Linked DNA regions of Homo sapiens: region 2 is linked to region 1. Evidence: fine-mapped expression QTL. A gene starts in region 1. The other region holds a variant in brackets. All regions are shown on one strand. Distances are from middle to middle. Region 1 holds the start of OR2C1 (olfactory receptor family 2 subfamily C member 1). Region 2 has its middle 23 kb from the start of ZNF75A.

The links. PIP is the estimated chance that this variant, and not a neighbour inherited with it, causes the effect. A credible set is the group of variants that fine-mapping cannot tell apart.
Region 2: its variant is the best candidate, but not a certain one, in a credible set for the expression of OR2C1 in whole blood (TOPMed, PIP 0.88).

What each region holds. Positions count from the first base shown.
Region 1 is chr16:3,349,382-3,364,976 of GRCh38, forward strand. It overlaps OR2C1 (olfactory receptor family 2 subfamily C member 1), which reads left to right and starts at 6,508. Exons shown (of 1, transcript NM_012368.3): 1 at 6,508-7,925. The coding sequence starts at 6,560. The coding sequence ends at 7,498. RefSeq lists an enhancer at 14,907-15,595.
Region 2 is chr16:3,321,403-3,335,539 of GRCh38, forward strand. It overlaps a transcript of ZNF75A not described here, a transcript of OR2C1 not described here and the pseudogene RPL7L1P19. Among named protein-coding and RNA genes, the nearest start is that of ZNF75A, 23 kb to the left of the region's middle. The variant A/C (reference allele first, on the strand shown) is at 4,604.

The DNA.
Region 1 (15,595 bases):
CAGAGCCAGCCACAGCAAGCCAGGCTTCCAACTGCGACCCAGTGCTACTCCAGGGCCAGAAGAGCCCCGAGGTTAAAAGCTGTGGCCCCAGTTCGCGGACAGGAGGAGCGCAGCACAGCCTCCCTCTCGGTCCCATGCCTGCCCTCTCTCCTTGATTCACTAAGCATGGAGACAGAGGATGGATGTGGGGGAATCTCAAAGCCAAAGGTACATTTCCATAAACAATCCCTAGACTGATTATTAAAGAATCCAGGATATAAGAGAGAGAGGCGAACAGGGGGGAAAAAAGATGGGAAAAGGAAAATAGCAGAGACAGAGAAGGAGAGAGAAAAGGGAGAGTGTTAAATAGCTTTTTAAAGGCACTGATTTTGGGGGCCAGGCGTGGTGGTACATGCCTGTAATCCCAGCTACTAGGGAGGCAGAGGCAGGAGAATAGCTTGAACCCAGGAGGCGGAGGTTGCAGTGAGCCAAGATCGTGCCACTGCACTCCAGCCTGGGCAACAAAGCGAGATTCCGTCTCAAAAAAAAAATTCACTGTTTTATGGCTTCTTCCTTTAGGCGAAAGGTTGGCGGTGACATGGTATTAGAGCCCAAGCCCGTTTATACAGAGGTCTGTGACCTCTGTCAGCAAGAAGAGTCAGGAAGGAAAAATACTCAAACTGTAAAAGGGAATCTTTTTTTTTTTTTTTTTTTTGAGGTGGAGTCTCTCTGTCGCCCAGGCTAGAGTGCAATGGCAAGATCTCGGCTCACTGCAACCACCGCCTTCCAGGTTCAAGCGATTCTCCCGCCTCAACCTCCCAAGCAGCTGGAATTACAGGCGCCTGCCACCACGCCCGGCTAATTTTTGTATTTTTAGTAGAGAGGGGGTTTCCCATGTTGGCCAGTCTGGTCTCGAACTCCTGACCTCAGATGATCCACCTGCCTCGGACTCCCAAAGTGCTGAGATTACAGGCGTGAGCCACCGCGCCCAGCCCAAAGGGAAATTTTTTGTTTGGTTGGTTGGTTGGTTGGTTTTTTTGTTTTTTTGTTTTTTTTGTGTTTTTTTTTTGAGATGGAGTCTTGCTCTGTCGCCCAGGCTGGAGTGCAGTGGCGCGATCTTGGATTGCTGCAAGCTCCACCTTCCGGGTTCACGCCATTCTCCTGCCTCAGCCTCCCGAGTAGCTGGGACTACAGGCGCCTGCCTCCGTGCCCGGCTAATTTTTTGTATTTTTACTGGAGACGGGGTTTCACTGTGTTAGCCAGGATGGTCTCGATCTCCTGACCTTGTGATCCTCCCGCCTCGGCCTCCCAAAGTGCTGGGATTACAGGCTTGAGCCACGTGCCCGGCCCCAAAGGGAAGTTTTAAAACAACAATTTTAAGAACCCCTTCACAAAAGTCATCTCTGGAATGGTCCAGGAGAGAAGCTGGGAAATTCTTAACATACAAACAAACAAAAGCCCTTTTGCATGCACAACTCTGTTCTGGGAACAGAGTCCTCAAGCAGAAAAGGATCATAAAAGACTTCAGGTATAGGCTGGGTGCAGTGGCTCATGCCTGTGAACCTAACACTTTGAGAGGCTGAGGCGGGAGGATTGCTTCAGCCTGGGAGGTTGAGGCTGCAGTGAGCTATCATTGCACACTCCAGCCTGGGTGACACAGTGAGACCCTGACTCAAAAAAAAAAAAAAAAAAAAGAACTTAAGATATATTCAGTGCCTTCAGGCAGGCAAATCTCTAAGCATACCTTATTTTTCTCTTGCCAAAGAATTTAATCAATATTTTATCACACCAACACCTCAAAATGCCCTATCGTAATTTCTCCTGCTCTGAATTTAAGTCTTTTTTCTTTTTTTCTTTTTCTTTTTCTTTTTTTTTTTTTTTTTTTGAGACAGAGTTTTGCTCTGTTGCCCAGGCTGGAGTGCAGTGGCATGATTTCGGCTTACCACGGCCTCTGCCTCCCAGGTTCAAGCAATTCTCCTGCCTCAGCCTCCCTATTTTTTTTGCTTTCCATAGAGAAGGAGAAGGAGAGCACCTGCTTATGAAGCACACATTTTTAAAATCTCCTCATAATAGTGAAGACATTAATTGGAAGAAAATTTGTTATGGAGAATGGTCTGAGAAAAAAATAATTGGAAGTAAAAAACCCACTTCTCCCTTTAACTATTTCCTCCTAAGCAAGTCTCCCGTCTTGGCCATACTTCATAGGACCTATGTCCTCCTTCTCCCTGTTCTCTAAAAATCTGTGTACTCCATTATCCTTTTTAAAATGCTAGGCAAATCAGGTAAGACCCTCGGATAAGGAATTGCTAATACAGTACACAGCAGAAAGCTTACTCCCCAGCCCTTACATGGAACCTCCTTTTGTTCATTTTTCTCTCTGGGACACCCATTGCAAGTTGCCTTCAGCTTGCAGAGATGTAACCTTGAGAGCTACTCCTGGGATACTTGTGCTTCTCTAGCCTTTTCCAGTCTAAATTTGTGCTGTTGAATTTTTGTACTTATTTGATGTATTGCCAAGCATTTAGTCTTTTTTTTTTTTTTTTTTCGTATTTTGTAAGATCCTGGGCTTATTAGAACTGCCACCTTGGCTCAGCCCATGGTCCATTCAGCCAGAATTGTTTCTTTGACAGCAGAATTAGAAAATACATTTTAAAGGAGCTTGATTGTTTTCCCTGATGCAAGCATCAGAAGTTAAAGTCCCTTCCGAGTGGCCTAGATTTCCTTAATCATGCATTGTATCTGTGTTTGTTAAATTTAAATTTTAATTTTTTTTTGAGACAGAGTCTCCCTCTGTCGCCCAGGCTGGAGTGCAGTGGTGCAATCTTGGCTCACTGCAAGCTCCGCCTCCCAGGTTCAAGCCATTCTCCTGCCTCAGCCTCCCGAGTAGCTGGGACTACAGGCGCCCACCACCACGCCCGCCTAATTTTTGTATTTTTAGTAGAGACGGGGTTTCACTTTGTTCGCCAGGATGGTCTTGGTTTCCTGACCTCGTGATCCACCCGCCTCGGCCTCCCAAAGTGTTGGGATTACAGGCGCGAGCCACCATGCCTGGCCAAATTTTAATGTTTTTAAACTTATGATGTTTTAATGTTTTTAAATTTTAATGTTTTTAAACTTATGAGTTTGAATGTTTTTAAACTTACTGATGTCTCTTAGAAGTAATAATTTACATAAATTTACTATTAACTATGTATTTTTTTCTTTCATTCATCCTTAATTGACTTTTTCTAAGATTCAAACTCCCCCATTTCTAGTTCTTGAATTCTAAGATTTGGGGAGGGGAAAAATCCCTGTTCACTTTGTCTAATACCAGCCCCCCACAGACCAAACAACTTTGGAAGAAGATGAGCAGTGTCTTTCTGTCTGTTTCTTTCTTTCTTTTTTTTTTTTTTTTTTCTGAGGTAGAGTTTCACTCTTGTTGCCCAGGCTGGAGTGCAATGGCATTATCTCAGCTCACTGCAAACTCCGCCTCCTGGGTTCAAGTGATTCTCCTGCCTCAGCCTCCTGAGTAGCTGGGATTACAGACATGTAGCACCACGCCCGGATAATTTTTTTTTATTTTTAGTAGAGACATGTTTCACCATGTTGGCCAGGATGGTCTCGAACTCCCGACCTCAAGTGATCTGCCTGCCTCGGCCTCCCAAAGTGTTGAGATTACAGGCGTCAGCCACTGCGCCCGGCCCTGTCTATTTCTTTGCCCTAAAGGGACACAAGGGAACAAGCACCTGAACTGGCAGGAGGTAGTAGAATGGGTTTCAGGAAGAACTTCTGAAAAGAAAGATGAGCTGATTATCCGGTTAGTAACTCAGTTCCTCAGCTCTCTTAAGTCCTAGATGAAAAGAATAAGTAGGCCGGTCGCGGTGGCTCACGCCTGTAATCCCAGCACTTTGGGAGGCTGAGGCGGGCAGATCACGAGGTCAAGAGATCGAAACCATCCTGGCCAACATGGTCAAAACCCCATCTCTACTAAAAACACAAAAATGAGCTGGGGATGGTGGTGTGCACCTGTAGTCCCAGCTACTTGAGAGGCTGAGGCAGGAGAATTGCTTGAACTCAGGAGGTGGAGGTTGCAGTGAGCCGAGATCCCGCCACTGCACTCCAGCCTGGTGACAGAGCGAGACTCCGTCTCAAAAAAAAAAAAAAAAAAAAGAATAAGTAGGCCGGGAATGGTAGCTCATGCTTGTAATCCCAACACTTTGGGAGGCCAAGGTAGGCAGATAACCTGAGGCCAGGAGTTCAAGACCAGCCTGGCCAACATGGTGAAACCCCGCCTCTACTAAAAATACAAAAATTAGTCAGGCGTGGTGGTGCACTCCTGTAATCCCAGCTACTTGGTTGGCTGAGGCAGGAGAATCGCTTGAACCTGGGAGGCAGAGGTTGCAGTGAGCTGAGATCACGCCACTGCACTCCAGCCTGGGTGACACTGCTAGACTCCATCTCAAAAAAAGAGAAAGAAGGAAGGAAGGAAGGAAGGAAGGGGAAGGGCTGTGGTTTATGATCTTCAGAAAAGTTGAGATCCTGGCCAAGGAAAGGGGATGGTGATTGGCCCATTATTAACAAGAGCTGATTTTTTTGTTCATGAGATGGGTTTTTTGTTTGTTTGTTTGTTTTTCTTTTCTTTTCTTTTTTTTTTTTTTTTTTGAGACAGAGTCTAGCTCTGTTGCCCAGGCTGAAGTGTAGTAGTGCAATCTCAACTCACTGCAACTTCCGCCTCCCTGTTTCAAGTGTTTCTGCTGCCTCAGCCTCCTGAGTAGCTGGGGCTGCAGGCGCCCGCCACCATGCCCGACAAATTTTTTGTATTATTAGTAGAGACGGGGTTTCACCATGTTGGCCAGGCTGATCTCAAACTCTTGGCCTCAAGTGATCTGCCCACTTTGACCTCCCAAAGTGTTGGGATTACAGGCGTGAGCCACTGTACCCGGTCTCATGAGATGTTAAGAATTATTTGATGATTTAGACGTGGACACAGTAGTTATATACCTCAAAAGAGGGATCTCCTCTGTAAATCTTCTAATTTCCCTTACTAATTATGAATACCCATTAACTATTTTAACCCCTTTTTGTGTAACCTCTGTTTATATCTTTTGCCTTTTCCACCTAAACTTATTTAAGCTTAAGTGAAGTTTTGTTTGCTCTACATTGACCTCCTCTTAAATTGTACATTCCCAGCTTCTGTATTTGGAGCATAAGTCTGTATCTACTCTTTCCATTATTTCTGTGACTTTATAGATTCATCATGTTATTCCTCAAACATCATCTTTCTAGATCCAGCACTGAGGTAAAACTCAGAGGGGAGGGATGTAGAAGAGAGCAGAGGAAATTTAACAGAAAATTCTGGGGAGCTTTTCCAAATACAATGTGTCTGCTTCCCCCCTTCCCTGAGCGTATCAGAATCTTGGCTGGGGAAATGTGTTGTTGCTGTTGTTTTCAAGAGATAGGGTCTCCCTCTGTCACTCAGGCATTGGAGTACAGGGGCTCACTGCTGCCTTGAACACTGGGGCTCAAGAGATCCTCCCACCTCAGCCTCTTAAAATGCTGGGATTACAGGTGTGAGCCACCATGCCTGACTGAAATTTCAGTCTGACTGAAAGTTTTTGAGAACTTTCACATCTAATTCTAATGGTCAACTCTCTCTATCCCGTCATAGCCATTGTTCTGAACTGAAGGGCTCTTCAGTTCTTGGGGTCTTTTGGTTTTGTCATCATGAGGCACTTCCTTCATTTCCGTGTTAGCTCATACCTGACATTCTGATGGAATCAACTTTTCCATTCGGTGTGTAACCAACAGTAGATGGGGATTACAACAGAAGTTTGAAATCTAGGCCACGCACGGTGGCTCACACCTGTAATCCCAGCTTTTTGAGAGGCTGAGGCTGGCATATCACGAGGTCAGGAGTTCGAGACCAGCCTGGCCAACATGGTGAAACCCCGTCTCTACTAAAACAAAAATTAGCCAGGCATGGTGGTGCATGCCTGTAGTCCCAGCTACTCGTGAGGCTGAGGCAGGAGAATTGCTTGCACCTGGGAGGCGGAAGTTGCAATGAGCCGAGATTGCACCACTGCACTCCAGCCTGGGTGACAGAGCGAGACTCTGTCTCAAAAAAAAAAAAAAAGCTTGCAATCTTAAAAAGTAAGTTGGAGTCCAGGTGCAGTGGTTCATGCCTGTAATCCCAGCACTTTGGGAGGCTGAGGCAGATGGATCACTTGAGCCCAAGAGTTGGAGACAACCCTGGGCAACATGGCAAAACCCCATCTCTACAAAAAATACAAAAGTTATTTGGATGTGGTGGCACACACCTGTGGTCACAGTTACTTGGGAGGCTGAGACAAGAGGATTGCTTGAGCCAGGGAGAAGGAGGTTGCAGTGAGCTGAGATTGTGCCACTGCACTCCAACCTGGGTGACAGTGAGAGACTCTGTCTCAAAAAACAAACAAAAAATAGGTTGTTACTTAACTATGGATCCCAGAGAACTATTAGACCGTTCCTGATGCAAATCCACCTCATCCAACAGCTTTTTCTTGACTTTTCTTCCAGCAGCTTGCGCTAAATGAATTCATCAAGTGACTGAAGACAACCAGTGATGGACGGGGTGAATGATAGCTCCTTGCAGGGCTTTGTTCTGATGGGCATATCAGACCATCCCCAGCTGGAGATGATCTTTTTTATAGCCATCCTCTTCTCCTATTTGCTGACCCTACTTGGGAACTCAACCATCATCTTGCTTTCCCGCCTGGAGGCCCGGCTCCATACACCCATGTACTTCTTCCTCAGCAACCTCTCCTCCTTGGACCTTGCTTTCGCTACTAGTTCAGTCCCCCAAATGCTGATCAATTTATGGGGACCAGGCAAGACCATCAGCTATGGTGGCTGCATAACCCAGCTCTATGTCTTCCTTTGGCTGGGGGCCACCGAGTGCATCCTGCTGGTGGTGATGGCATTTGACCGCTACGTGGCAGTGTGCCGGCCCCTCCGCTACACCGCCATCATGAACCCCCAGCTCTGCTGGCTGCTGGCTGTGATTGCCTGCCTGGGTGGCTTGGGCAACTCTGTGATCCAGTCAACATTCACTCTGCAGCTCCCATTGTGTGGGCACCGGAGGGTGGAGGGATTCCTCTGCGAGGTGCCTGCCATGATCAAACTGGCCTGTGGCGACACAAGTCTCAACCAGGCTGTGCTCAATGGTGTCTGCACCTTCTTCACTGCAGTCCCACTAAGCATCATCGTGATCTCCTACTGCCTCATTGCTCAGGCAGTGCTGAAAATCCGCTCTGCAGAGGGGAGGCGAAAGGCGTTCAATACGTGCCTCTCCCATCTGCTGGTGGTGTTCCTCTTCTATGGCTCAGCCAGCTATGGGTATCTGCTTCCGGCCAAGAACAGCAAACAGGACCAGGGCAAGTTCATTTCCCTGTTCTACTCGTTGGTCACACCCATGGTGAATCCCCTCATCTACACGCTGCGGAACATGGAAGTGAAGGGCGCACTGAGGAGGTTGCTGGGGAAAGGAAGAGAAGTTGGCTGAGAGAACACTCCTTCGTTATTTATTGCGTCTTCATCTCTACATGCGTTTCTCATTAACTCTCTCTGGCCAGGTGAACATGAGGAATACTAATTCCGGTAAAACCAAGGCATGTTCCTGACAGCCCTAAGCTGACAGCCCTAAGCTGTTGGGAACATGGTTAGTGTTATTCGTAATGTTCTACACTTATTTACCAAAAATCCTACTGTGGACTACCGATAGCAGGGGAGACATGTTGTTGAGGGCTCAGAGGTTATTGACCTGTGACAGACCTGTCTCACTGTCTCTGTCTCTGTTGCCCACATGTTATTTAATATGCCTTATATTTCTGCAGAATTCTGTACTTTTCTAAGCAAAGCACCTCCACTTGCAGTATCTTACATAATGTTACTATAATTCCATAAAATCAAGCCATGTATTATTAACTTCATATGAAGACCCAAACAATTCATGTTTTTACCCTATCTGTCATTATCTTTGCCTACCTCTTTTTGTCTCTTCTTCATTTTTTTTAAGAGTTGGAGTCTTGCTCTGTTGCCCAGGCTGAAGTAGAGTGGCATGATCTTAGCTCACTGCAGCCTTCAACTCCTGGGCTCAAGCAATCCTTCAGTCTTCTGAGTAGCTGGGACTATAGGCACATGCTACCACACCTAACTAATTTTTATTTTTATTTTTTACAGATGGGGTCTCACTCTGTTAACAGCCCAGGCTGGTCTAGAATTCTTGGCCTCAAGTAATCTTCCTGCCTTGACTTCCCCAAGTGCTGGGATTATGGGTGTGATCTACCGCACCTGGCCTGTCTCTTCTTAATAATGCAGTATACCACTGGGTGCAGTGGCTCACACCTGTAATCCCAGCACTTTGGGAGGCCGAGGCGGGTGGATCACCTGAGGTCAGGAGTTCGGGACCAGCCTGACCAACATGGAGAAACACTGTCTCCACTAAAAATACAAAATTAGCCTTGCATCGTGGCACATGCCTGTAATCCCAGCTACTCGGGAGGCTGAGGCAGGAGAATCGCTTGAACTCGGGAGGCAGAGGTTGTGGTGAGCTGAGATCGTGCCATTGCACTCCAGCCTGGGTAACGAGCAAAACTCCGTCTCAATAATAATAATAATAACAATAATAATAATGTAGTATATCTGTCCATACTTTCCATCCATATATCTCTCCATCATCTTGTTTACCCTCTCCCTTATGCCTATATTCCAATTTCTCTTCTACTAATCTATTATTTAATAATAAAAGATTAAGCCAGGCACGGTGGCTCACGCCTGTAATCCCAGCACTTTGGGAGGCCGAGGTGGGTGGATCACGAGGTCAGCAGTTCGAGACCAGCCTGACCAACACGGTGAAACCCCGTCTCTACTAAAAATATGAAAAAAATTAGTTGGGCATGGTGGTGGGTGCCTGTAACCCCAGCGACTTGGGAGGCTGAGGCAGGAGAATCATTTGAAGCTGGAGGGTGGAGGTTGCCGTGAGACGAGATTGCACTACTGCACTCTAGCCTGGGCAATAAGAGCGAAACTCCATCTCAAAAAAAAAAAAAAAAAAAAAAAAAAAAGAAAGAAAAGATTAAAAAGGTCATTTGCAGCTGGGCACAGTGGCTCATGCCTGTAATCTCAGCACTTTGGGAGGCTGAGGTGGGTGGGTCACCTGAGGTCAGGAGTTTGAGCCAGCCTGGCCAACATAGTGAAACCCCATTTCTACCAAAAATACAAAAATTAGCCAGGTGTGGTGGTGCACACCTATAGTCCAGCTACTTGGGAGGCTGAGGCAGGAGACTTGCTTGAACCCGGGAGGTGGAGGTTGCAGTGAACTAAGGTTGCAGTGAGCTGAGATTGCACAACTGCACTTCAGCCTGGGTGACAAGAGCAAGACTCTGTCTCCAAAAATAAAACAAAACAAAACAAAAAGGTCATTTGCCTTTTGATTCTAGCCAAAGAGGGTCCCTTGCTACTCTCTTATTGAAATCATCCCATCCAAAAGTCCCAGACATCAGATGTCTTACCAGCATTTGGGTATGCTAGTCTGGTCAGTGGATAATGGAATGTCCTAAGATTCCTTATGCAAATTTAAGACCCCAGGAAAGATCATCCATCCATAAAGTATGTTCTCTGCCTCAAGATCTAGTCTTGAAGCCCTGCAGTTCCTAAAATTCAGCAATCAGTTCAGCACACAATTAATTACTCATCTTTCAGGAACTCACATGTTGGGATCAGAATGCCAATTTGTGATTCTGCACATTCCTAGAATTGCCAAAGGGATCCCCACCTGTTACCACGATTCATTTACTATTTTCCCAGACAGAGAAGCTAGGTTAATATAAGAAAGTTGCATGACAACTACATTACCATAGAAAAGGGAATCAATAGGTTTTAGAACTAGTTCAAAAGGGGCTTTGGCTTTGTGTCCCCATAATTTTGAAACACATGCCTTATACATAGTAGATACTCAATAAGTGTTTAGCAAATATAATTAATAAGCTTCATGAGTCCTCCTTTATCTTGCTAAGAACTAAATTTGTCAAATGGACCGTCTTCATGTTTGCCACTTTGGGGTCATCCCATCCCTTGGACAGCATTGAACAAACAATGATAAATGTTCCCTTTTCCACATTACCATAATTCCTTCCAAAGACATCTAATCATACTGTCCTGTCATGAGTTTGTTTTTCCAATAGCAGATCAAAGCCATTTTGCCAGTTCCTCATACAGCAATACTCAAATACGTCTCCAGAAGTAGACAACTGTTAACATTATCTTGGCGAATTTATTAAAGTCCAGAGTCTTGCAGGCTCAACACTGGTTTTGTTTTGTTTTGTTTTGTTTTGTTTGAGACAGAGCCTTGCTCGGTTGCCCAGGCTGGAGTGCAGTGGCGATCTCAGCTCACTGCAACCTCTGTCTCCTGGGTTCAAGCAATTCTTGTGCCTCAGCCTCCTGAGTATCTGGGATTACAGGTGTATGCCACCATGCCAGGCCAATTTTTTTTTTTTTTTTTGGTGGAGACAGGGTTTCACCATGTTGGCTAGCTGGTCTCAAACCCCTGGTCTCAAGCGATTCACCCTCCTCAGCCTCCCAAAATGCTGGGATTACAGGTGTGAGTCATTGCACATGGCCAGGCTCAACATTTTCATTGATCAGTACACTCAGATTAGGTCAAGTTCTCAAGAAGTAGGTTCACAATGACCAAGTTCCTAAAGCTGTTATATAAACCAAAATGCCAGCTGATTACGTTATGAGAACAGTACCAAGAGACTGAACAGTTGCATCCTCCAGTCAATTCATTTAAGTTGTGAAATAACTTGGGAGGAAATAGGAAGAAAATGGACAGGTATTCCTGAGACATATGAGTGCTGTAGAGCCTCCATATGGAAAAAATTGGACATTTTGTAACTAACACAGAGTTCTGGGTGTGGTAAGACACAGGGAATTAGAGGAAGAAGAACAAGCTGACTGGCTATGGTGAGGAAATGAATACATCACAGGGATCGCATATAACTTCGTCAACACACATACGCTTATGTTCCATTCTCAATGGTGTTCATGAAACAAGGTCAAAATTTGGGAGGAAAAGAAGCAAATATAAAGCAAGCTCCTTGTTATTGAGGGTTTGGAGTCCTATTTCTAGGTGTCCAGGAAAAAAATATGTTTGGTGTCTTGTTCAGTTGGAAATTCAGGAAATGACAGACAAAACCACCACCAAGGGCCGGGCACAATGGCTTACGCCTGTAATCCCAGCACTTTGGGAGAATGAGGTAGGCAGATCACTTGAGGTCAGGAGTTCAAGACCAGCCTGGCCAACATGAGACTCTGTCTAAAAAACAAACAAACAAACAAACAACAACAAAACACTAAAACCACCAAGACCTATGAAAGACTCACCAACCTTAGTAAAATAGAAATGAAAAGCATTTGAATATGCTCATCTGCTCACTGGATTTAAGTGAGTTTGAGAGCCCATCGCATAGAGCCCTTCTCAGAGTCTGTCTGGATCCCATACCTTTCCGTTTAAGGTATCAAAGGCTGCCTGAATACCTCAAATGAGCAAATTCTGAAGCTGCCAATGAAGACAGTCAATCCTTTTCCATTCTTCTCAGCCTTCAGGCTCAAGTCCAGGAAAGATTAGGAAAGATTAGAATCAAGGAACCGGGAAGAAATAGAAGTTGAAAAGTGACTTTGGCTTGCTGCATATACACTTTAGTATGTGAGCTCTGAATTAGAGACTATGGTAGGACGCAGTGGCTCACACACCCGTAATCCCAGCACTTTGGGAGCCCGAGGAGGGAGGATCGCTTGAACCCAGGAGTTTAACACCAGCCTGGGCAACATACTGAGATCCCGTCTCTACTAGAAATTTAAAAATTAGCTGAGTGTAGTGGTGCTTGCCTATATCCCCAGCTACTCAGGATGGTGAGGCAGGAGGAACGTTTGAGCCCAGGAGTTCAAGACTACAGCGAACCGTGATTCCATCACAACACTCCAGCCTGGGAGACACAGTGAGGTTCTGTCTCAAATAGATACATAATTAAATAATAGACTAATTTGGAAGCTCTATTAATGACTTTGCAAAAAGGTCTAGTGTATTTGACCAACGGTGGCTAAGTGTACTGAGTATTCACCATTTGCTAGATGAGGATCTAAACTCTACACACTTCCACTCATTCAATCCTCACAATCCATGGGCCACCTGCTATTATGCTTGTCCTCTTTTTTTTTTTTTTTTTTTTGAGACAGAGTCTCGCTCTGCCGCCCAGGCTAGAGTGCAGTGGCGTGATCTCGGCTTACTGCATATGCTAGTCCTCATTTTAAGATGAGGACACTGCAGCATAAAAGGAAACTTGCCCAAGATCATGCTTTGGTAGGGTAGGGAATCAAAGCATAATCGTCTTGACTCTAAAGCTGTGCGTACTCTTTTTTGTAAAAACAATCGCAAACTTACAGAAAAGTTGGAAGCATGAAACAAAGACTTCCCCTGACCTCCAATTATTTGAGAGTAAGTTAGCAACCTGACACCCTGTCTTCCCCAAATATCTTGTGGTGTGTTTTCAACAAACAAGGACATTATCCTACAGAGCCACAATATAACCATCAAAATTAGAAAAATGGGCCAGGTACAGTGGTTCACACTTGTAACCCTAGCACTTTGGGAGGCCGAGGTGGGCAGATCACCTGAGGTCAGGGGTTCAAGACAAGCCTGGCCAACATAGTGAAACCCCATCTCTACTAAAAATACAAAAAGTAGCTGGGCATGGTGGGACATGCCTATAATCCCAGCTACCCGGGAGGCTGAGGCAAGAGAATTGCTTGAACCCAGGAGGTAGAGGCTGCGGTGAGCCAAGATCATGCCACTGCACTCCAGCCTGGGCAACAGAGTGAGACTCCATCTCAAAAAAAAATTTTTTTTAATGAACATTAATACATTTCATTATCTAATCTGCAGACCCCGTTCAATGTTTGCCAACTGTCCCAACGATGCCTTTCATAGCGAAAGAATTTTCTTCACAATCACACATTGCATTTAGTTGTCATGTCTCTAGTCTTTGTCAGTCTGAGATGGTTCTTCAGTTTTTTTCTTGACTTTCATGATTGCCACACTATAAAAGATTGTTAGCCAGTTATCTGGTAGACAATGTCTCCATTTGGGTTTGAAGTTTCTTCACATATAGACTCAGGTTAGCATCTTTGGCAGGAATATCACAGATGGGAGGTTGCATTCTTCTCATTGTGTCCTATCAGGGGGTGTATATTTCAGTTGTTTTCATTTCTAATGGTGTTACGTGGATCACTAAATGAAGATTGTGTTGACCAGCTTTCCCATTGTTTCCCTCTTTGTAATTAATAAGTGTCTTATGGGGAAGTACTTTGAAACTATGTAAATATCCTGCTACTAATTAAACTCAATTTGTTCATTTATTTGGTTCTATCTTATGCAATTAAGGTTTTCTGTTTTATTTAATGGTTTATAATAAGGGTATCCAACCCACAGGCCACAGAGAGAAAGAGAAATACATATGTGTGTATATATATGTATATACTTATATCTGACATGCAAAGCAGTGCTCTGCCCTTGCTTTTTCCCACACTCAGGCTCTGCTTTCTCTTTCTCTCTCTCTTTTCTGTCCATTTAGTCATCTACTACCCTGCCCTCTGAATAGAAAGGCAGCAAGGTGCCTCAGAAAGTTCAACACTCTGGGAGTCAAGAACTTGAGTATTTGGGTGCACTCTGCAACTAATTAGTTAGGGTAGTCAGTGGCTCTTTATAGCACTCTGTCTCATCATCTGTAAAATGACTATAACAGGTGGCAGGAACATTGTAGGAATCAAAATAGATAATCCACATAAGAAATGCATGTGTTTAAAAAACTCCTCCATGGTTATTCTTAATCAAAGATGGCATACTTTTCTTAGAAGTGTCATCAACCTATTTCACATCCCACTCCCTGTATTTATATCCTGATGAGGTACTACTCCTTTGTGCTACCAGGGCCTTCATAAATGATGGATGAATGAAGGGGGGCAAGACTGAAGGCAGAAAGACTACATAGAAGCCTTAGTATGATCCTCCACTCTTCTTTCTCTCACACTCCACATCTCAATCTAGTAGCTCCCTCTTCAAAATATACCCAGAATACCCAATCCGGAATCACACACACGTGAAAATTAGAAAAGTATTTGTATGTCCACCAAAAGAGGAATGGTCGATTATATATATTGTGGTGGGGGGAGGTGGGGAGCAGCATGGAAAAACATTTTAAAAAGAATATGCATGGTGGTACATGCCTAAATGCAGCTTTAAAAAATTATATATATATATAAACGAAAAGAAAAAAACAAAAATTATATATATAAATGGAAAAAACCGACAAGAATTAGTAAATGTAAAAAAAATTATATATTAAGAACCAGAAAGATATACACACTAGTAATGTTACTAGTGGAGGGTGTCCAGGTTCTTGGCGTTTGGAACGAAGAACTGGACAAAACACACAAACAAGGCAAGGAAAAAAATGAAGCAACAAAAGCACAGATTTATTGAAAACAAAAGTACACTCCACAAGGTGGCAGCCCGCAGAGCATAGGGGCTCAACAGGCATGTGCCAGAATTTTTCTGGGGTTTAAACACCCTCTACAGGTTTCCTATTGGTCACTTGGTGTACACCCTATGTAAATGAAGTAGTGGCCCGTAATCGGCCCTAGGTTCCCTTAGGTTGCTTTGTGCAACCAGAGGCTGAAGTGAAGTTACAAAGGTTACACGCTATGCAAGCATCTGATACTTTCAAATTTTTGTCTGCCACGCAGAAGAGGTGATGGAGTTTGTAAAGGGAGTAGCCTCCAGTCCTTTCAGTGGGTCCTTTCCTTACTTAGGTGGGGAAAGGGAAAGTTGGGGTTTTCCTTTTGATTTAGTTCTAGGAAGTCAGCGTGAATCAGTTAGGTTTCCTGCCTCCAGACCCTATTCCTCTGCCTCAGTAACAGTTATTTTCTCTAGGGAGGGAGTGTAATTTCAGAGGCAAAGTATGAATATATTTTGTTAATCATTTGTATTTATTTATTATTTATTTATTTTGAGACAATCTCGCTCAGCCGCCCAGGCTGGAGTGCAGTGGCAATTACCTCTCACTGCAGCATCGAACTCCTGGACTCAAGTGATCCTCCCGCCTCGGCCTCCCAAAATGCTGGGATTACTGGCGTGGAGACTTCAGTTTTAAGTGAGAACGTTTTGCAGTACTTACTTAATATTAAGAAATAAAAACAACTTAGAGTGGGGGGAAAAAAAGCCACTGGATTAGATACGAGTTCTAGTCAACGAAAGTCACTTAAACTCTGTTTTGGCTTCCTCGTCTGGAAGATGAAAATGGTAATATAACTGACTGAGTAGGGTTGCTGTAAGTATGAGTTAGTGTGTAAATGTTTACAATTACGCAGGGCACACAGCAAGCGCCACGTTTTCTATCAGGGCTACTCTCACCTAACGCGTAAAACAGGATGGCATGCCCAGCGGGATCCGGGCCCTGGGTTCTCAGGCATTGTGATTGGTCTCAGCATATGACGCAAGGCGGGCTTCATTAATGAAATTGCTGTCAATTAGCGAAGGGCGGAA
Region 2 (14,137 bases), 29 kb before region 1:
TCTAAGTTCAGTGCTGGGACCATCCCAGACCTAGAGTTCTCCCTGCCGTTAAGCAGACTGGACCTTGAGCTCACCTTGAGAACCTCAGATATATTTTATTTTTGAGACAAGGGTCTCTGTTGCCCAGGCTGGGGCTCACCACAGCCTCGATCTCCCAGTCTCAAGCAATCCTCCCACCTCAGCCTTCTGAGTATCTGGGACTCCAGGCACGTGCCACCATGCCTGGGTTATTATTTTTTTACTTTTAGTAGAGATGAGGTCTTGCTATGTTGCCCAGGCTGATCTTGAACTCCTAAGCTCAAGTGATCCTCCTGCATTGGCCTCCCAAAGTACTGAGATTACAGGCATGAGCCACCATGCCCAACCTCAGATATCTTTTAACTGGAGGGGAAGAACAGGAGGGGCTTAGAATCAAAGTAAATCTCAAAACTAAAACTCCTAGGGTTTCTGTTAACTTTTGGAACTACTGAGAACAGTGTTTAATTTCCCAGGTAAGTTTGAGGAAGAACGCCCAGCAGCCTCTTTTATCCAAATGGACAATTGGTAACAAAAGATGGGAGTTCATAAAGGATTTTCCAAATATTTGTTGAGTCATGCCACTGAAGCATTTACTCCAGCATTTCCTGGTCACTCCTCCCTGTCATGTGTGATGAAGGCTGCCCTGTTACTCTTCTCTTGGAGGTTTTCTAGTGCATAAATACTTGCTGAAGCTCTCCCCACATTCTCTGTGGACTGAATTCTCTCCTATGTAGACTCTCTGAAGTCCCCTCAAGTGGGAAACAAAGTTTTGCCCATACTTCACGTTTCTACTGTTTGTCCCAGTAGAAATCCACCCAAACAAAAAGCATACTTTTGTTTCTGAATCTTTTCTACACCTGTCACTTTTTCTTGTGTGGGTTCACTGGGGACCGAGATGAGGGCACTGTTTGAAACATCAACCAAATTTGCTACATGCCTAGGTTTCCTTCATGTATTAATCCTCCACTGGGCAATGGTAGTTGGGCTGTACTGAAATGCCTTCTTCAGTCGAGCGTCTGTAAGGCTTTTCTCCTGTACGATTCACCCAAATCTGATAATGCGTGTACTTTGCCTAAAGCAGTTCGCCTAGTCTGAATCCCTCCTGTGAAAGGAATTAAGCAAGCTACCTTTTGCATTGCATTTCAGATTTAAGAAAACTATCTGAATCACTTTTCATTTCTGCCACAGTTCAGATAATGAATCTTGAGTTGCACCAATCTTAGCGCTGACATTAAAAATCAAGCTTTACAGTGTTTGGATATGATGCACCTTTTAGGAGAAACTAAGAAAGCTTACTGTTGAAATTTTTTTTTTTGACAAGTTAACATTTATTTTTGGGCCTTTCTTCCTATGTGTATTTCAAGTCTTTTTCAAAACAAGGACCCAGGAATCTCCAGATTCAATTATGTCCCTGGGCTTGGTCGACTGCTCCCGGAGTCTTAGGAAGCCTTGTACAAATGCTAGAGTTACTCATTCACCAACATTAAACCCTAGGATAGAAGATTCAACAAAGCAGGACTACTTCCGCCGACAAGGAGGCAGCCAATGTAGAAAATGCTGGAATTTTTCCTTGGAACTGGACTGTGATGAGAGGTACTTGCCATGAACCTAAGCTACTGTCTTTTTTTTTAACCCTTCCTTTCCAGTTTTTGAAGATAAAGCAGGAAATAGTCTTTGAAGATACTTGATAAAAAAAATCTCAAAAAAACAAAAACACATGCTTCCACTTCATTGATAAAAATTTACTGCAGTTTGGCACCTGGGTCTAGTTCAGCTGGCAGATGAGCTGATTGATGCATTCACCCCAATAGCCAGATGTGCCCATCTCCTTGAGGAAGCCCACTGTATTTTTGGTAGCATGATGGACCACTGAGAGGTGGAAAGGGCAAAAGAACCATGAGATCTCCTGGAAATGCTTCACTGGGAGGCAATTTCATGAATGAGGTCTTCCAAGCAAATGACACCAAACTTCCCCAGGTGCTCCTCAATCACTGTGTTGTCTGTCAGAGGGATGGTGTTCTTATTGACCTTGGCTTGTCCATGTTTCAGAATGAATTCCCGGACAGACTTCAGATTTGGAAATCCCCAGATCACATAAGGTTCCACTATACGCAGCATTTTTAGGTTCTGGGGGGTGACTTTTACAAAGACACCACTAAAAATTTTCTTAAGATGAAGTCTTGCAATGGCTGTCTGCACCAGTAGACTCACGCCAACAATCCTTTTGCTGCATACAACAAAGGCCAAGGAATGTTTATCTGGCAATTCCAAGGCACGAGGTTTCATTTCTAGTCATCTGAGACACACCTTGTCACATTTCTGCCACCAGGAATTATGTAGGAATGATTCCAGTCCCTTAAACCTGAGCCCTTTTCCTTTCCGCTGCTCCTTCTTTGCCAAAAGTGCCTGCTTTGTCTGAGTGGCTTTGAGGACTTGATAAGCCTTCCTCTTTTTCAGGAGATTTTCTGGAACCAAAGGGATTTTTCTTTGCTTTTGCTCTGCCATCTTTCTAGTGTTGTAGCTGCTGATCCTTACTGTTGAATTTTTAAAACCAATAGGTATACTTCCAACATAATTTTCACACTAAGCATTTGCCCATGATTTGTACAATCAACTGAATGATTTCAAAGCATTTGAAACAATCAAAAAGTAAAAGATCTTTACTGTTCACAAAGACAAAATTAAATATTTGTAGCATTAGAAAAATTCCTAAAATATTTAGTAGCATAGGGAACAACAGCTTGTTACACAGAAGAGTTAGGAAAAAAAATTTTTTATTTTATTTTTTGGAGACAGAGCCTCACTCTATCCCCCAGGCTGGAGTGCAGTTGCCCGGTCTCGGCTCACTGCAACCTCCTCCCCAGTTCAAGCAATTCTCGGGCCTCATGCTTCCCAAGTAGCTGGCACCACAGGTGTGCACCACCACACCTGGCTAATTTTTTGTGTTTTAATAGAGATAGGGTTTCAACGTGTTTCCCAGGCTGGTCTCGAACTCCTGAGCTCAGGCAATTCACCTGCATAGCAGAGTTAATAGATGGGCAAAGGCCATTGAGTTGAAGAAAGCACATTATGATGCATCAGCCTCATGTTCTGGGACCAAATCAAAGTACTCACTCTACTGAATTGACCAAGCAACCATGAGAAAAATATCTAACTAAACTGCTCAGTGTTGTAATGGATTTCTCTCTACGTATGTTTGTTTTATAAATATGTTAGAGATGGGAGTCTTGATATGTTGCCCAGGCTGGCCTCGAACTCCTGGACTCAAGTGATCCTCCTGCCTAAACCTCCCCAAATCTGGGACTGCAGGTGCATGCCATCACACCTAGCTCCTACACACACACACACGTATATATATGTACATACATACATATACATACTTACATATACATATATATGCTTACCTCAAATATATTGCAGGTTTGGTTCCAGGCCCATGCAATAACATGAATATCAGAATGAAGTGAGTCACACAAATTTTTTGGTTTTCCAGTACATATAAAAAAGTTATATTTACACTGTACTGTAGTCTTTTTTATTTTTCAGTTTTGTATTGTATTGTATTGTGTTTTATGTTTTGAGACAGAGCCTCACTCTGTCACCCAGACTGGAGTGCAATGGCATGATCTCAGTTCCCTGCAACCTCTGCCTCCCAGGTTCAAGTGGTTCTTTTGTCTCAGCCTCTGAAGTAGCTGGGATTACAGGCACCTGCCACCAGGCCCAGCTAATTTTTTTATTTTTAGTAGAGATGGGGTTTCACCATGTTGGCCAGGCTGGTCTTGAACTCCTGGCCTCAACCGATTAGCCACCCTCAGCCTCCCAATGTGCTGGGATTACAGGCCTGAGCCACTGTGCCCAGCCTATTTACTTATTTTTTAATAGAGATAGGGGTCTTACTATGTCGCCCAGGCTGGTCTCAAACTCGTGGGCTTAAGTGATCCTCCTGCCTTGGCTTCCCAAAGTGCTGGGATTACAAGTATGAGCCATCACACCTGGCCTGTAGTATAGTCTTTAAGGGTGTAATTGCATTATGTCTAAAAATATATATATATATATATATATATATATATATATATATATATATACACTTTAAAAATACTGGCATGGAGATATGAAGTGAGTGTGTGCTGTTGGAAAAATGGCAGCGATAGACTTGCTCATCACAGGCTTGCCACAAACCTTCAATTCATAAAAAATACAATATCTGTGAAGTGTCACAAAGTAAGGCACAATAAGGTATGCCTGTATATTAATACATATGTGAATAAACTCTATGGATACCTATATCTCATATAGGTAGATATCTTAAGTGTATATATTTTTAAATATTAAGATGTTTTTCACTATGTTTTTGCTTTGTTGGTGTAAAAGGGAAAAAATGTAAAAATATAAAATATTTCTCAAATTGCCATGCTAAATGAGGCATGTAGGTGCCTGATGTGAGTATTAGTGATGGAGATTATCTCCAAAGCATGGAGGTATTATACTGCAAGAGTGCTCAAGTGCATTCTTTTTTTTTTTTTTTTTTTAGGCAAAGTCTCACTCTGTTGCCCAGGCTGGAGTGCAGTGGTGCGATCTCGGCTCA[A/C]TGCAAGCTCTGTCTCCTGGGTTCAAGCAATTCTCCTGCCTCAGTCTCCTGAGTAGCTGGGATTACAGATGTGCGCCACCAAGCCTGGCTAATTTTTTTATTTTTAGTAGAGACAGGGTTTCACCATGTTTGTCAGGCTGGTCTTAAACTCCAGACCTCGTGATTGGCCCGCCTCGCCCTCCCAAAGTGCTGGGATTACAGGCGTGAGCCACCGTGCCTGGCTCAAGTGCATTCTTATGATGACAGCCTGGGACGCCGAGAACAAACCCAGCACTCACCCTACACCAGGCAAAATGATGTCTTTCTTTCGGAAGTAAATACACTCTCCAAAATGAAGCACATTACCCTCTCAAAACCATTCCCATCCACACCAGACACTGCCTTAAGGAAATCTTCCACTTCTACAGACCATCCAGGTCCCTGATCTCTGACCACAGATTCACACCTCTATTGCAGTTTTAGAAGATATGGTTCAGTGCCCTCTGTTCTATTCAACTAGAAGCTTTACACTTGGGGAGTGTAGCAGACATTTGTTGACTGCCTCCTAACATCCGTTTCACCCTTTTTCCTCTCTGTCAATCCTGATTCCATTTGGAGATCTGAGAGGTTCCTGATCCTGGTTTCCAGGAATGGAGAATGTGACCCAACCTCAGTAAGAGAAAGATTCTACCTCCTTGGTTAGACAATGGCTCAGGGTTAGGCATATGGCCTTAAGCTGGTCCTATTGGGACTTTTCTTGGAGATGCTAGAACAAATCCAGCTCTTGCTGGATGACGCATGTAACCCAGTAGCTGTTCACAATCTTCTTGAAACTGGGACATAGATGAGCCTTAGGATGAAATCAGCATCATAGAAAGCAGAATAGAGTGATAGAAATTCAGTCCTTGGTAACATCATTGAGCTGTAGGATCAAGCATCACCTCATACCTAGAACTGCCCAGTACTTTTCAGCTACGTGAATCTATACATTCCCTTTATTGTTTAAGCCAATGTGAATTGGGGTTTCTGTTCATTGTAACCGAAATAATTCTAATAAATACATAGAGTAATAACTGATTTAAAATAATATATATAGGAAATGGACAATCCTTTTATATGTACCCACTTAGAGGTTTTTCTTATGGAAGTTATCAAACATATATATAATTATAAAGAGAATAGTATAATGAACCCCCTCAAGGCCTTAAAAATCACCAACATTTTGCCAATCTTGTTTCATTTATCCCCTCCAGTTTTTTTATTTTTTGCATTTAGAGGGTTGTTGGTTTACTTTGGAGTATTTTAAAGTAAATCTCAGACATTCTAACATTTCACCCTTAAATAGTTCAGTTTGTAAGAGATAATTCTTGACAATCTCTGCCCTAAACCATCTTTGGGGAACAGTTCCTACTCAGTGGAGGACCTCTGTCCCATAGGAGCAAAGCTCATTGAGAACACAGGAGCTGCCTTTCCCTTCCCCAGAGGGTGACCAAAAAACTTTACTGACAACTTCTCAAGATGGCTTTGTAAGAAGACCCTCTTGACCTCCTCCCTGGAGTATCCATTTATGAGAACACCAGGCATCCCAGATGCCTCGTAATGAGAGTGGTCCGGAAGGGATACTAGATGCCCGTGATGATCCCTGGAGCAAGTTATTACTAACTTGAAACTAAGTAATCTACTCCTGCACTTTTAACAAGCCTCAGAGTGCTTCATTCATTAAGAGTTCAGTGGCATCGGTTAATTAGTGGTTTCCTGAAAGCCTACTGAACAAAAAACTAATAATAATTACACCAGGCATCTCCCCAGGAGTTCAAAGTGCCCTCAGAAGAGTTTCTCATTTACTCACTTGCATTGGCTTTAATTTTTTTTTTCTTGAAACAATGTGTAAATAAATATTCAAAGCATTAAAATTTCATTATAGTTCACCTCCCTCTTAGTAAACCTGCTTGATTTTATTTTGTTTTAATTAGCATTTGACCATCCCATTTGGGTAACTTCTAAGAAGAAAAATGAACCTCAAAATTTAATATCCCTATTCTACTTTCTTCCTCATTTGTTATCATGCTTCCTTGTAATGAGGAATTTTCTCTCCTTTACCCTGGTTAGTGTTCCTTCCTTACCTTGATCCTCTGTCTGGAGTTTTTCTAAAGTAGTTACTCTATGCTTTAACACCCAGTGTCCTGATAGTCAAGAAGTGTGCTACAAACTGCTGTGAAAGATCCTTTATGGCCAGTTAATACTTGCCATAATTTATCAGTGTGGTCTTATAAAAACATACTTAGCCAAACAAGAGTTCTTTGCAACCAGAATTCCTCGTGCCATAAGCTACTGTTTATTACCTTCTGCAAGTCTCAAATCAACACTTAAATTAACCTGCTGACAAAAATTCATTCTGTTCTTATCTCTGCCTAAGGATTACTCCGCCTAAGTTTACTCCCTAAAACTTTTTGAGAATTATGTACGCTGTGTGCTCATTCATTCATTCAACATTGGGAAGATATTTATTGGTCACTTTTTATGTATCAGCCTGTCAAAACTGTGAGACAGGAAAAACAACCAAAAACCTAGCACCTGTCTCCTGGGAGGACAATGTAAGCTTGGATAGGTAGCCAGACTAGGATGGAGAGCAGAAAATAACTGGTGTAGGAAATTGGCTCCCCTTTGGGGTTCTGTGCTCACCCTCCCTCTCCTTATCCCAACAACTCTCTTGAAAAGAACATACCCAAATCAGAAGCATACCACGTTAACTGAAGGCAGGGTCCCTGGTGGAGCAATGACAAACAGGGTTGACAAATAGGAAGAGTTCAAGCCCAGAGAGTGTTGCCAGAAGTACTATGCTCTGAGGGTGTTGCCCCACGCCCTGTCTAAACTTGCCTGGTGGAGAACAGCCAGGGCCTGACCTTTGGTCTTTCCTTCACTTACTTTATCACCAAGGTAGCTGATGTGCACAGGGAATAGTAAACACAACACATGAAATAAAACAGTTGGGTGGACTAGGAAAATTAATTAATTAATTAATTAATTTGAAGCAGGGTCTCACTTTGTCACCCAGGCAGGAGTACAATGGCATGATCTTGGCTCACTGACGGAGCCAAAGGATACAGTCAAATAAGGAATCAGTAAGCAGAAAGATCAGAAAGAGGAACACCTCTAGAAGGCATCAGGAAGGGATGGGAGGGAAGACACACACACACACACACACACACACACACACACACACACACACAGCTTAGCTATGGAGCGGGAAGAAGAAATGGAAACATTCTGCCTGCATTTGTGTGAGAAGGAGTATCAGAAGGAGAGAAAAATAAACAATAATTAATATAGAAAATATCTGAAGAATGACCAAGAATGTCCCAGGATTAAAGACAAAAGAACACCACGAAAAGAGTTTATAGGATAGATAAGAATAAAGGCCAAAAAGGGGGAAAAACATGCATACCTAGAAACATTACAGTAAATTATTATTATTATTATTTTGAGACAGAGTCTCGCTCTGTCGCCCAGGCTGGAGTGCAGTGGCGCGATCTCAGCTCACTGCAAGCTCCGCTTCCCAGGTTCATGCCATTCTCCTGCCTCAGCCTCCTGAGTAGCTGGGACTACAGATGCCCGCCACCACACCCGGCTAATTTTTTGTATTTTTAGTAGAGATGGGGTTTCACTGTGTTAGCCAGGATGGTCTCAATCTCCTGACCTCATGATCCACCCACCTCGGCCTCCCAAAGTGCTGGGATTACAGGCGTGAGCCACGGCGCCCGGCCTTTTTTTTTTTTTTTTTTTTTTTTGAGGTGGAGTCTCACTCTGTTGCCCAGGCTGGAGTGCAGTGGCGCAATCTCAGCTCACTGTAACCTCTGCTTCCCGGGTTCAAGTGATTCCCCTGCCTCAGCCTCCTGAGTAGCTGGGATTACAGGTGCCCGCCATTATGCCTGGCTAATTTTTGTATTTTTAGTAGAGATGGGGTTTCACCATATTGACCAGGCTGGTCTCAAACTCCTGACCTTGTGATCCGCCCGCCTCGGCCTCCCAAAGTGCTGGGATTACAGGCATGAGCCACCGCGCCTGGCCTTAAAATTTAACAACATCAAAGAAAAAGTGTGTTTGTTTTTGTTTTTTTGTTTTGTTTGTTTGTTTTGTTTTGAGATGGTGTCTCGCTCTGTTGCCCAGGCTGGAGTGCAGTGGTGAGATCTCGGCCCACTGCAAGCTCTGCCTTCCAGGTTCACGCCATTCTCCTGCCTCAACCTCCCGAGTAGCTGGGACTATAGGCGCCCGCCACCACACCCAGCTAATTTTTTGTATTTTTTTTCTTTTTTAGTAGAGACAGGGTTTCATCGTGTTATCCAGGATGGTCTCGATCTCCTGACCTCGTGATCCACCCGCCTCAGCCTCCCGAAGTGCTGGGATTACAGATGTGAGCCACCATGCCCGGCTGATTTTAAGACTTTTTCTAAAGCTACATTAATCAAAACAGTGTGCTATTTGTAAAGGGATAGACACATAGATCAATGGAACAGAATGGAGAGTCCAGAAATAGACCCGCATAGATAAAGCCAAAGAGTTTTACATAGGTAACTTTTTTTTGCCTTGTGAACCATCATAATCTTTATTTTTTATTGATACATAATATATGTATGTATGTGATGATTGAATACATTCATATAATGTGTAAACATCAAATGAGAGTAATTAGTATATCTGTCACATTAAATATTTATATTTTCTTTATGCTAAGAACATTTGAATTATTCTCTTCTAGCTATTTATTTTTATTTTTTAGAGACAGAGTCTTATTTTGTAGCCCAGGCTGCATGCAGTGGCACAGTCACAGCTCACTGCCATTTCAAATTCCTGGGCTCAAGAGATCATCCTGCCTCAACCTCCTGAGTGGCTAGGACTACAGGTGTGCACCACTAGGCCCAGCTAATTTGTAATTAAAAATTTTTTTTTTCTAGTTCTAGATCCCTGAGGAATAGCCACACTGACTTCCACAATGGTTGAACTAGTTTACAGTCCCACCAATAGTGTAAAAGTGTTGCTATTTCTCCACATCCTCTCCAGCACCTGTTGTTTCCTGACTTTTTAATGATTGCCATTCTAACTGGTGTGAGATGGTATCTCATTGTGGTTTTGATTTGCATTTCTCTGATGGCCAATGATGGTGAGCATTTTTTCATGTGTGTTTCGGCTGCATAAATGTCTTCTTTTGAGAAGTGTCTGTTTATGTCCTTCGCCCACTTTTTGATGGGGTTGTTTGTTTTTTTCTTGTAAATTTGTTTGGGTTCATTGTAGATTCTGGATATCAGCCCTTTGTCAGATGAGTAGGTTGCGAAAATTTTCTCCCATTTTGTAGGTTGCCTGTTCACTCTGATGGTAGTTTCTTTTGCTGTGCAGAAGCTCTTTAGTTTAATTAGATCCCATTTGTCAATTTTGGCTTTGGTTGCCATTGCTTTTGGTGTTTTAGACATGAAGTCCTTGCCCATGCCTATGTCCTGAATGGTAATGCCTAGGTTTTCTTCTAGGGTTTTTATGGTTTTAGGTCTAACGTTTAAGTCTTTAATCCATCTTGAATTGATTTTTGTATAAGGTGTAAGGAAGGGATCCAGTTTCAGCTTTCTCCATATGGCTAGCCAGTTTTCCCAGCACCATTTATTAAATAGAGAATCCTTTCCCCATTGCTTGTTTTTGTCAGGTTTGTCAAAGATCAGATAGTTGTAGATTTGACCCAGCCATCCCATTACTGGGTATATTCCCAAAGGACTATAAATCATGCTGCTATAAAGGCACATGCACACGTATGTTTATTGCGGCATTATTCACAATAGCAAAGACTTGGAACCAACCCAAATGTCCAACAATGATAGACTGGATTAAGAAAATGTGGCACATATACACCATGGAATACTATGCAGCCATAAAAAATGATGAGTTCACGTCCTTTGTAGGGACATGGATGAAATTGGAAATCATCATTCTCATTAAACTATCATAAGAACAAAAAACCAAACACTGCATATTTTCACTCATAGGTGGGAATTGAACAATGAGAACACAAGGACACAGGAAGGGGAACATCTCACTCTGGGGCCTGTTGTGGGGTGGGGGGAGGGGGGAGGGATAGCACTGGGAGATATACCTAATGCTAGATGACGAGTTAGTGGGTGCAGCGCACCAGCATGGCACATGTATACATATGTAACTAACCTGCACATTGTGCACATGTACCCTAAAACTTAAAGTATAATAATAATCAATTAAAAAAATAAATAAATAATAAAATAAAAATTTTTTTTTTGTAGAGACAGGGTCTTGCCATATTGCCCAGGATGGTCTTGAATTCCTGGACTCAAGTCATCCTCCTGACTCAGCCTCCCAAAGCGCTGGGATTACAGACGTTCTTCTAGCTATTTTGAAAAGTGTAATAGATTATTGTTGACTATAGTCACCTTAGTGACCTATTGAACACTAGTTCTTATTTTTTCTACCTAACTGTATATTTGTACCAATTAATCAACCTCTTTTTATCCTCCCCCCCACTACCCTTCCTGGCCTTTGCTAACCTTCTCAGGCTTCATGAGATTCACTTTATCAGCACCCACATGTGAGTGAAAACGTGTGATATTTGTGTTTCTGTGCTTGACTTATTTCACTTACAGTAATGACTTTCAGTTCCATCTGTGATGCTACAAATGACAAGATTTGTGTTCTTTTTTATGGCTGAATAATAATATTCTATTGCATATATATATATGTATGCACATATACATACACCACATTTTCTTTATCCATTCATCCATTGATGGACGCTTAGGTCGGTTTCACATTATGGCTTTTATGAATAGTGTTGCAATAAACATGGGAACTCAGATATCTCTTCAATATATTGACTTCCTTTCTTTTGAATATATATCCAGTAGTGGAATTGCTAGATCACATGGTAGTTCTATTTTTAGTTTTTTTGAGGAACTTCCAACAGTTTTCCATACTGGCTGTACTAATTTACATTCCCAACAACAGCGTACAAGGGTTCACCTTTCTCCACATCCTCGCCAGCAGCTGTTATTTTCTGTCTTTTTAAATTAAAGCCATTTTTAACTGGGGTGAGATATATCTCATTGTGGTTTTGATTTGCATTTCTCTGATGATTGATGATATTGAACATTTTTTCATATGCCTGTAGGCCATATTTATGTCTTCATTTGAGAAATGTGTATTCGGATCTTTTGCCCATTTTTTTTTTTTTTTTTTTTTTTTTTTTTTTTTTTTTGCTATTGAGTTGTTTGAGTGCCTTATATTATTGGTTTTTAGTTTCTTGTCAGAGGGAGAGTTTACAAATATTTTCTTTTTTTATTTTATTTTAGTTTAGTTTATTTGAGACGGAGTCTCCCTCTGTTGCCCAGGCTGGAGTGCGTGGCACGATCTCGGCTCACTGCAAGCTCCGCCTCCCGGGTTCGCGCCATTCTCCTGCCTCAGCCTCCCCAGTAGCTGGTACTACAGGCACCCACTACCGCGCCCGGCTAGTTTTTTGTATTTTTAGTAGAGACGGGGTTTCACCGTGTTAGCCAGGATGGTCTCAATCTCCTGACCTCGTGATCCGCCCGGCTCGGCCTCCCAAAGTGCTGGGATTACAGGCGTGGGCCACTGTGCCCAGCCAAGTTTACAAATATTTTCTATGGGTTGTCTCTTCACTTTATTGTTTCCTTTGATGTACAAAAGATTTTTAGTTGGATGTAATTCATTTGTCTTGTTGCCTGTGCTTTTGAGATCTTACACAAAAATATCTTTGCCTAGATCAATGTCCTGGAGCATTTTCCCCATGATTTCTTCTAGTAATTTCATAGTTTCAGGTCTTAGATTTAAGTCTTTAATCCATTTTGAGTTGATTTTTGTATATGGTGAGAGACAGGGGGCTAGTTTTATTATTCTACCTATGTATATCCACTTTCCCAAGCACCATTTATTGAAGAGATTGTCCTTTCCCCATTATATATTCTTTTTGGGGTGGTGGGGGGACAGGGTCTCACTCTGTCACCCAGGCTAGAGTGCAGTGGCACAATCTTGGCTCACTGCAACCTTCTCCTCCTGGACTTGGGTTATCTTCCTAACTCAGCCTTCTGAGTAGCTGGAACTACGCGTGTGCCCCACCATGCTTTGCTAATTTTTTTTTTTTTTTTTCAGATGGAGTATCACTCTCTCCCCAGGCTGAAGTGCAGTGGTGCAACTTCAGCTCACTGCAACTTCCGCCTCCCGGGTTCCAGTGATTCTCCCGCCTCAGCCTCCCGAGTAGCTGGGACGACAGGCACGTACCACCATGCCCAGCTAATTTTTGTATTTTTAGTAGAGACGGGGTTTCACCATGTTGGCCAGGATGGTCTCGATCTCTTGACCTTGTGATCCGCCTGCCTCGGCTTCCCAAAGTGCTGGGATTACAGACTTGAGTCACCTCAGCACAGCCTGCTAATTTTTTTTAAGTTTTTGTACAGACAGGGTTTTACCATGTTGCCCAGGCTGGTCTCGAACTCCTGGACTCAAGCAATCTGCCCAACTCAGCCTCCCAAAGTGCAGGTATTGGGAGGCCAAGCTGGGCAGATTGCTTGAGTCTAAACTATTCCCAAAGTACAGGGATTACAGGCAAGAGCCACCACGCCCAGCCTTCCCATTGTATATTCTTGACACCTTTGTTGAAAATGAGTTGGTTATAAATGCATGGATTTAATCTGTGTTCTCTATTCTGCTCCATTGGCCTATGTGTCTGTTTTTATGCCAGTACCATGCTGATTTGGTTATTATAGCTTTGTAGTATACTTTGAAGAAAGCTAGCATGATGCTTCCACTTTGTTCTTTTTTTTTTTTTAAGACAGAGTCTCACTCTTGTTGCCCAGGCTGGAGTGCAATGGCTTGATCTCGGCTCACTGCAGCCTCCGCCTCCCGAGTTCAAGTGATTCTCCTGCCTTAGCCTCCCCAGTAGCTGGGATTATAGGTGTGTGCCACCATGCCTGGCTAATTTTTATATCTTTAGTAGAGACGGGGTTTCACCATGTTGGCCAGGCTGGTCTTGAGCTCCTGACCTCAGGTGATCTGCCCGCCTCAGCCTCCCAAAGTGCTGGGATTACAGGCGTGAGCCACCATGCCTGTCTCCACTTAGTTCTTTATACTCAGGATTACTTTTACTATTAGTGGTCTTTTGTGGGTCTGTATAACTTTTAGGATTTTCTTTTCTTATTTCTGTGAAGAATGTCATTGGCATTTTGATAGAGATTGCATTGAATCTGTAAATTGCTTTGGGTAGTATTGTCATTTTAACAATTTTAAATCTTCCAATACATGAGTATGGAATATGTTTCCATTTTTTGGTGTGTATGCTCTTCAGTGTCTTTCACCAGTGTTTTATAGTTATCTTTGTATAATCTTTTACTTGTTTGGTTAAATTGATTCCTAGGTGTTATATATTATTTGAAGCTATTGCAAGTGGGATTGCTTTCTTTATTTCTTTTTCATGTTTCAGATTGTGTGTTATTGGCATATATAAATGCTACTGCTTTTTTTTTTTTTTTTTTT